Homo sapiens: one gene and its partner. The protein of the gene in region 1 purifies or fractionates together with the protein of each later gene. This does not show direct contact. Each region holds a gene or a part of one and is shown in the gene's direction. Other genes may lie near its edges. The genes, in order: TNFAIP8 and DLD.

The links.
Region 2: the proteins of TNFAIP8 (region 1) and DLD fractionate together in Homo sapiens (co-fractionation; one large-scale study listed by BioGRID). This does not show direct contact.

The regions. Positions count from the first base shown.
Region 1 is NC_000005.10:119,358,861-119,362,685, forward strand, and holds part of TNFAIP8 (tumor necrosis factor alpha-induced protein 8), read left to right. Parts: intron 1-3,825. UniProt on the Homo sapiens protein: Acts as a negative mediator of apoptosis and may play a role in tumor progression.
Region 2 is NC_000007.14:107,904,407-107,908,231, forward strand, and holds part of DLD (dihydrolipoyl dehydrogenase, mitochondrial isoform 1 precursor), read left to right. Parts: intron 1-551; coding exon 552-652; intron 653-954; coding exon 955-1,098; intron 1,099-1,860; coding exon 1,861-1,962; intron 1,963-3,825. UniProt on the Homo sapiens protein: Lipoamide dehydrogenase is a component of the glycine cleavage system as well as an E3 component of three alpha-ketoacid dehydrogenase complexes (pyruvate-, alpha-ketoglutarate-, and branched-chain amino acid-dehydrogenase complex).

The DNA.
Region 1 (3,825 bases):
TAAGGGGTGGGCGAGGTGTCACTTTGTGGGGACTTGGAAAAGAGTGAGGATTGAGTGGTGAGTGAGTCTGGCTCGCTCCTCCATTGCCCATAGTAGCCATTTCCCACCACCACCTCACCCAGTTCTTACTCTCATGCCTCACCAGGCCTGCTATTTCACAAAGAAAACAGTAGCCATTAGATAACTCCCTCAACGTCCTGTTCCCAGACTGACAGACTCATCTCCGTCCACATCTATCCTCCCTGTGTCTGTGGAACAGGTGTCATTCCTACTGCAGAATGCCCCGCCTTCCACCTTGGGCTCCTCCTACACCAGTCAGCCCATATCCTTCCTGGCTCCTTCTTTTCTGCATATAGAAGAACTCAAGCTCCCCATTCTAGGACATTGGCACTTGCTGGTCTTCCTGCCCAAAATATCCTTCTCTCCACCTGACCTCCTTTTCTTGGTCAGCTCTTTAAAGAGGCTTTTTCTGAACCTAAACTCAGATCCCCTGTCGCCCTCTCTCAGAGCACCTGTTCCTTTCCTTGCTGGCTCTCCCCACACTGCTTAACATCTCTTCTAGACCACAAGCTCTGCAGGGAAAAACAATGTCTGTTTTATTCCCCGCTGTATGTCTAGGACCTACAGAGTAAAAGGTGCTCATTAAATGTTGTAGATTGAGTGAATGGTCTCCATTCTTTAAAGTTAATCCTTGGCAAAAAAAAAAAAGTTTAGTTGTTCCGTAGTGGTGATTAATATCCTCTTCTGTAATAAGAATCCCAATGATATTTTATAAGCTACCACACTGTGTAGTACTCTGTTTTAACCTCACATGGTGTGGCAGCTTATATAATATCATTCATCACTAAGGACTATTTTGTAAGTTTTCTCCCCTATTCCTGCCCTTCCCCAGCCTTTGCTTTGCAGAGGGAATGAAGAGAAAAGGAGGTTAAAGCAGTGGTTCAGCTCTGATGAAACCAAGGGGTATAGCTGACCTTGATGTCATACATAATGTAAAAGGTACAGCATATGCTCTTAAACACCGGACTTTGACGTGCTTATCTGTTTCCTTTTATGTAGTCATTAGGCTTGGAGTGTTGTGTGCTGACAAGGACTAAAAGTGGAAAATCCATTTAGAGATCTATCATACTCTCTCCTCTACAGTGGACATCACTTGATAACTTGGCATTGCCAGACACCTCCAGCTCTGTAAACTTAAATGCATTTGGAGCTTTTTTCCCCTCACTTCTGAAATTTTTATCATATTGAATATGCATCCTACCTTTCTTGCCCCCACCTTACGCCATTGAACAGTCAGGATTATATGGATGATTAAATTTCCTGCTCCTGACTGTTGGTGATCCAGGAAGTAGCCAAAAAGTGGGTGGGTGAAAGAGAATGCAGTAGAGCCAGAAAAACTCAGGACCCAGCGATTGCATTTCAGAACACTGCAGAATTGCTGGATTTACCTATAAATCATTTATTTGTCAGCATTTCTGTCTTTATGCTAGCAACTTGTAAGTCAGTGAGATTAGTGTGGTTATAGACCTGTCTTCATTTAGAGAAGATTGTTCTTTAAAACATAGTGTAAGCTGAATTAAAACAAAACCAAATGATATGTATATCTTTAATGTTTAAGGAAGGTCTGTAGTAAGAAGTCTTCTGTAATTTAAAGTGCCCTTCTCCCACCAAATACACATAGAATCACCATGATTTAGAGCTAAAAGCGACTTTGCCAATCCTTCTTTCTGACCTCTTCATTTTAGAGGTGAGGCACTGAGGCCCAGCAAGGTGATTGCCAAGCCCTTTCTATCCTCTTTAATACATGTTCTGCAAGCAAGGATTTTTGCAAACACAGGTTTTAGCATCCTGGGTATTTGTATGCACTCTCCTTGAAGTAGGACAGACCTAGTCTGTTTGTATAGTTGTCATTCACTACCTCTTGGGGGGATTTATAAAACGCAGATGAATGTTTAAACAAATGAAGATTTCCTGTTTCACCTTCTACGTGTAACTCAAGAGAATAAAACATGAGACATTGTGAAATAAAATTTAGCTCTGCAAGTAGATCCTATTAGATCCCGGATTTTGAAAGTTGTAGACCAAGTGAGAGGCAGGTAAACAGTGAGCTCACTTGTTTTCATTCCTTTGAGAATATCATTCAGGAAAAATTAGCTATTGAGGGTGTTGGTTGGGTACAGACACTCTTCCTTGGGGAGAAGGTATGTATGTGTGTGGGTGGGAAGGGAGTCAGCATTCTGACACAGAATGTGCTATTGCAAAAGCAGACATCCCACAGCCTCTCTTTCTCTGGAGCACATTGCAGCAGGCCCGGTGCACTCTGGGAGTCAGGACACCTTTCTCAGGAAGCATTTGCGGGGCTGCAGCGCACTGCCCCCCCAGCCGCTGACCAAGATATCTGAAAGAGCAATTGCTTAAATTTTATTCTAAAAGTTTATAAGCCTTGAAGAAGAGGTACAGGGATGTAGTATGTCCTGAGTGACTAACTGCTGAGTTGGGAATAAATTGCCTAAGGGAGTGCTGCCCTGGGAATCTGTAAGATTGAGTAAAGCCTGTTAGTTAAGCTGGTATTTATATGGTTTTGAAGATGGGGGAGGGGAGGAGTTGTGTTTATGTGGACTTAATGATAATACATTCTCCAGCTTTGTAGTGAATAATAGTTAATTTTATAAGTAACTAGGAACAGAGTTTCTTCTAAGAAGGTGATGAAGCAAAGAGACTATAAGCAGAATTCCCTACGTGGCTCTGATAGCTTTAGGTGCCTGAAGCCTCCAGACCACATTTGTTGAAGTCAGGGTTGACTGTCAAGAAGTGAATAAGCAGCTCATGAATTTTCCTTCCAGTTTGACCTGCCATTTATGCTTGGTGCCAGCTCACCTGGCTTCAATATGTGTTTTCATGTGGCCTACGCAGCCAGGCTGAGAAGCTGGGGACCAGGGGTGTCCCCAGAGGCACAGGCTGTTCTGCCTGTCATGGACTGTCCAGTAGACTCCTGCTTCCAGGGTGCAGCCCCTCTCCCTTGCCTGCTGCTGCCTTCTTTGAGCCTCAGATACTCCTAACAACAAATGTTAACTGAGATAGCACCTCCTCTGCAGGGCCTGGAGAAGCAAAAATGTGTGTGTAGATAACCCCATCTTCAGAGAGTTTTTGGTTCAGGGCATCACACACAGCACATGTGCATCCATAGTACAAAAATACATGATGGAGAGGGATGAGTACAGCTCAGAGGATCAGACAGTGGACCCTATGAAAGTCTAGAAGAGGGGGTATTCACCAAAAGTCATGATGGACAGAAGTGACTTCAAAGAGGGGTAACTTGTATTCCAGCTAGTTCCTTTAAGCAAATGGAGAAGAGAAAAAGAAAGAGTGAGTGACAGGGAACCTACTTATGCTGTGTGCTGGGATCAGGAAGAATGTCTACAGAAGTGTGGAGAGCAGTGATCATGGTGGGCATTCGTGGTGATGTTGTAGTGGTACATGGGGCCAGTCTAGAAGCTGGACTTTCCCAGGGGGACATTGTATGTAGGTAACAGAGATAAGACCCTGTGAGTCAGGAGACTGATCCTACTCATGACTTTGTTCCTGGTTGTCTGTGCAACCTTCAATAGCTACTTAATCTTTCTGAAGTTCAGTTTCCCCATTGGAAAAATTAAGGCTAGGCACAATGGCTCACACCTGTAATTACAGCACTTTGAGAGGTTGAAGGAGGTGGGTCAGTTGACCCCAGGAGTTCAAGACCGGCCTGGGCAACAAAGTGAGACCCCCCATCTCTACAAAAAAAATTTAAAAATTAGGCACAGTGGAATGCACCTGTAGTCCCAGCTA
Region 2 (3,825 bases), on another chromosome or scaffold:
TCTAAGATACCCTTCTTACCTCTAAAGTTTAATTGAGTTGAGCATTTTTATCTAATACTGTTGCTTCAGAGTTCTCTTCTGAGTTGAATGAGTGATTAAAACCTAGGTGATTAAACTTTTTAATGTTAAGCTTCTGTATTTGAAATTTTTAAACGTGTATTTTTTATTTGTTTTGTTTCATGAAATCTAGCATTTTCCTTTATTTAAAATTTCAGATGATGTTTTACTTTGTCATTTCTACTTACATATCTTCCAGACTTATAACCATCGTAAAGTGTTCAGAGGATATGTTATCACAGTGGGATATAATGTTTTATTTTGGACTGCCTTTTTACCCAAGGTAGACATTTTATAGTGTTTGATAGGTTCTGTTTCTGTGATACAATGATGTTGGCCTTTTGTCAACTATAATTATAAGTTATTACATTTTGAAACTTTAATACTGCCTTTTATAAGCATTAGGTTGAAATTTTCCAGTTGGTGAGTGAAAAACACTGCATATTGCTTCAAGAATTTAGCTAAGAACTAAAGATTAATTGAACAAATTACAGTGTCCGAAGTTCGCTTGAATTTAGACAAGATGATGGAGCAGAAGAGTACTGCAGTAAAAGCTTTAACAGGTGGAATTGCCCACTTATTCAAACAGAATAAGGTCAGTGTTTAATATTCAGATTTCTGCTTTACTTTGAATACAAATTAAACTTTGCATTATAGAGTGATGATATTTGAACTTGGTTACAGGGGAATATTTATTTAATTTAAAATAGCTTGCTAACCTGAAATAGATTTCCCTGACATATATCACAGATTTTTTTGCTGCACCATGGTGTAGCATTACTAAGTAAGGAAGCATTTTGTTTTAGATAAATTATTTACAGAGTAATTTTTCCTTTGAATGATTTATCAAACAAATTACTTTAAACTTTGTGAATTTATAAAGATTATTTTGTAAAGGTTGTTCATGTCAATGGATATGGAAAGATAACTGGCAAAAATCAAGTCACTGCTACGAAAGCTGATGGCGGCACTCAGGTTATTGATACAAAGAACATTCTTATAGCCACGGGTTCAGAAGTTACTCCTTTTCCTGGAATCACGGTATTTATGCTTCATAATTTACAACCATTACAACTTTTCTTTAGAAATACGTTTTATAAGTTATTTATGCTATTTGTGAACTTTGAGAGATTTCTGACTGAAATACTATATTTTGATGGTCATTCAGCTTTGGGAAGTTACCTGTCTTTATTCTGCAGTGATTCTGACCAGCTATAGAACACTTTATATTAAGATATGTTTGAATACAGTATGAAGTTAAAATTGACCATTGCGTTTGGAATATTGGTGGATAAAATTTAAAGTCAGTGTTTTTAATGGGATTTGATGAAATTAGGTATATAGATACCTCAAAACAAATAAATGACTTAGTATTTTTAGTGATTCTACTGAGATCACAGTTTATAAATACATTTATCTCTTCATATCCTTGGAGGATTGGTTCCAGGACCCCCCTTGGATACCAAAACCCACAGATGCTCAAGTGCCTTACATAAAATGACATAGTATTTGCATATAATCTGCATACTTCCTCCTGTATACTTTAAGTCATCTCTGGATTACTTATAATACCTAATACACTGTAAATGCTATGCAAGTAGTTCCTATGCTGTATTGTTTAGGGAATAATGACAAAAAAACCATGTGTACATGTTCAGTACAGATGCAACCATCAATTTTTTTCCTGAATATTTTCAATTAATGGTTGGTTAAATCTGCAAATTTGGAACCCATGGATATGGAGGGTCGACTGTACTAGGTTTTTTCAAATTATTTTGATTATATCTTTTGTTTTTCTTACAGATAGATGAAGATACAATAGTGTCATCTACAGGTGCTTTATCTTTAAAAAAAGTTCCAGAAAAGATGGTTGTTATTGGTGCAGGAGTAATAGGTGTAGAATTGGTAAGTGTTGTCTTTCTGCCTCTTATTACCTCCTTGGAGTTGGAAGGGACTTAAAGGTCCCCTTTTTGATTTTTTGTATAACATTACAGGCTGATCAGCATTGAGTTTTGCTTAAACACTTCTAGTAATAAAGAGTTTACTTTTGTTTTTTTCAAGACAACCTATTTATGTATTTACTCATTTAGAATGTTCTCCTTTATTTTAGTCTGTTTCCTTGTACCTTCCACCCTTCCATTTCCTAGAACTGGTCGAATTCTTTTTTAATATGACAGCCATTCAGATATTTGAGGACAGCTTTTATCCTGGGCAAATTGCATTCCAAATAAAGATTATTCTCTTTACCATCACATACATGATTTGGCTCTTCCCTTCTCTATCCTCATCTTGATGCCTCTTAACTTAGGTTTTAGAAATGTCAAACTACTTGCATTTCTTTGAACACCATGTTATTTTAGACCTTCTGTCTGCCTTGTTCTCCCTTCTTGTCCATCTGGCAGCTTTCCACACATTTCCAATGACCTCCCTCCATTTTAGAGTCACTGTGCCTTGTAAACACCAGGAATTGCTCTACTTCTGAAATAATAAATTCAGATATTTTATTATGTAACCATGACCTCCTTTCCTCTTTTACTCAGTTATTCATAGTGTACTTTGTACCCTTTTTTAGGTTTTCTAGTCCATAGATCTACTTTTTTGCAATCTTCCCTTTCCAATCTTGACTGCGTTCCTGATCAGCTTAGATGCCATAGTCCATCACTTTAACCACACTCTTACAGATGTCCTTGAGTTGCTTGTCTCACTGTTCTGTCATATCTGCTTGGCAAAACTCTAGTTCGGTTTGAATGCAGCAGTCTGCCTTTTTTATGCTATTTCCAGGCTGTTGACTACACCTGGAGAAAAACACACCCTACTCATTGGTACTTGTATTAATTCTTGGCACAAACCTTAACAAGAACCTCAGCCTTGCTGACAGTTTATTATTTCCTAAGATGGTACACTGCCCTGGTCTCTGCAATGGCCATTTTCATTTTCTACTCTTCTCAAATCTCTGCTTGTATACTGTCTGCTCTGCCTGTGGATGACCTTGTCTTTTAAATATTACATAAAAGAGAAATCAGATGAGAACTCCCTCAAGTTGATGTCCTAAATTTGATAATGCTTTTACCTGTTGTTACACCTATCCTTTTGATTACCTCTCCTATTACTGTGGAAATGCCATTTTCCCTAAGACTAATCCCTTTACTTGTGCTTGGTAGCACATCATCTGCCTTTTCAGAGACTTGGTTTTGTGATTTTTATTCTTGTATTTTTCAGTCTTCAAACTCCTTCCTTTTATTTACAATTTCATGTGCTTCTATGTGTGTACCTGTGATGCATTTGCACTCATTAACACAGGTTTGTGTGCACATAAATGCTCCTTATCTTGGTCCCATGTCCTTCTTGAGTTACCAATTTTGTTCGCACTTTTCCTTCAAAACCCAGCTTCTCAAAAGAGTTGTCCATGCTTTATTTCATCAACTTCCACTCACTCAGTCTATGGCTTGTGCCAATAAATTGCTCTTAGGGCATGAATCTATTTATTGCTCAATCTGTTGGACTAATTTCTTCACTGCTTTATTTGGCAGTAATTAGCATTGCTGATTTTCTTGCCTTTGAAACACTTTGCCTAACTTCTGTGATTTCATATTCTTCCATTTTTACATCTGCTCTTTGGGCTGAATTCTCCATATTATGCAAGTTCCCCTTTCTTAGGCTTCCCTTTAATTGTTAGTATTTTTGTTTTTCTTTTTTTTTTTTTTTGAGTCCGAGTCTTGCTGTGTCGCCCAGGCTGGAGTGCAGTGGCGCGATCTCGGCTCACTGCAA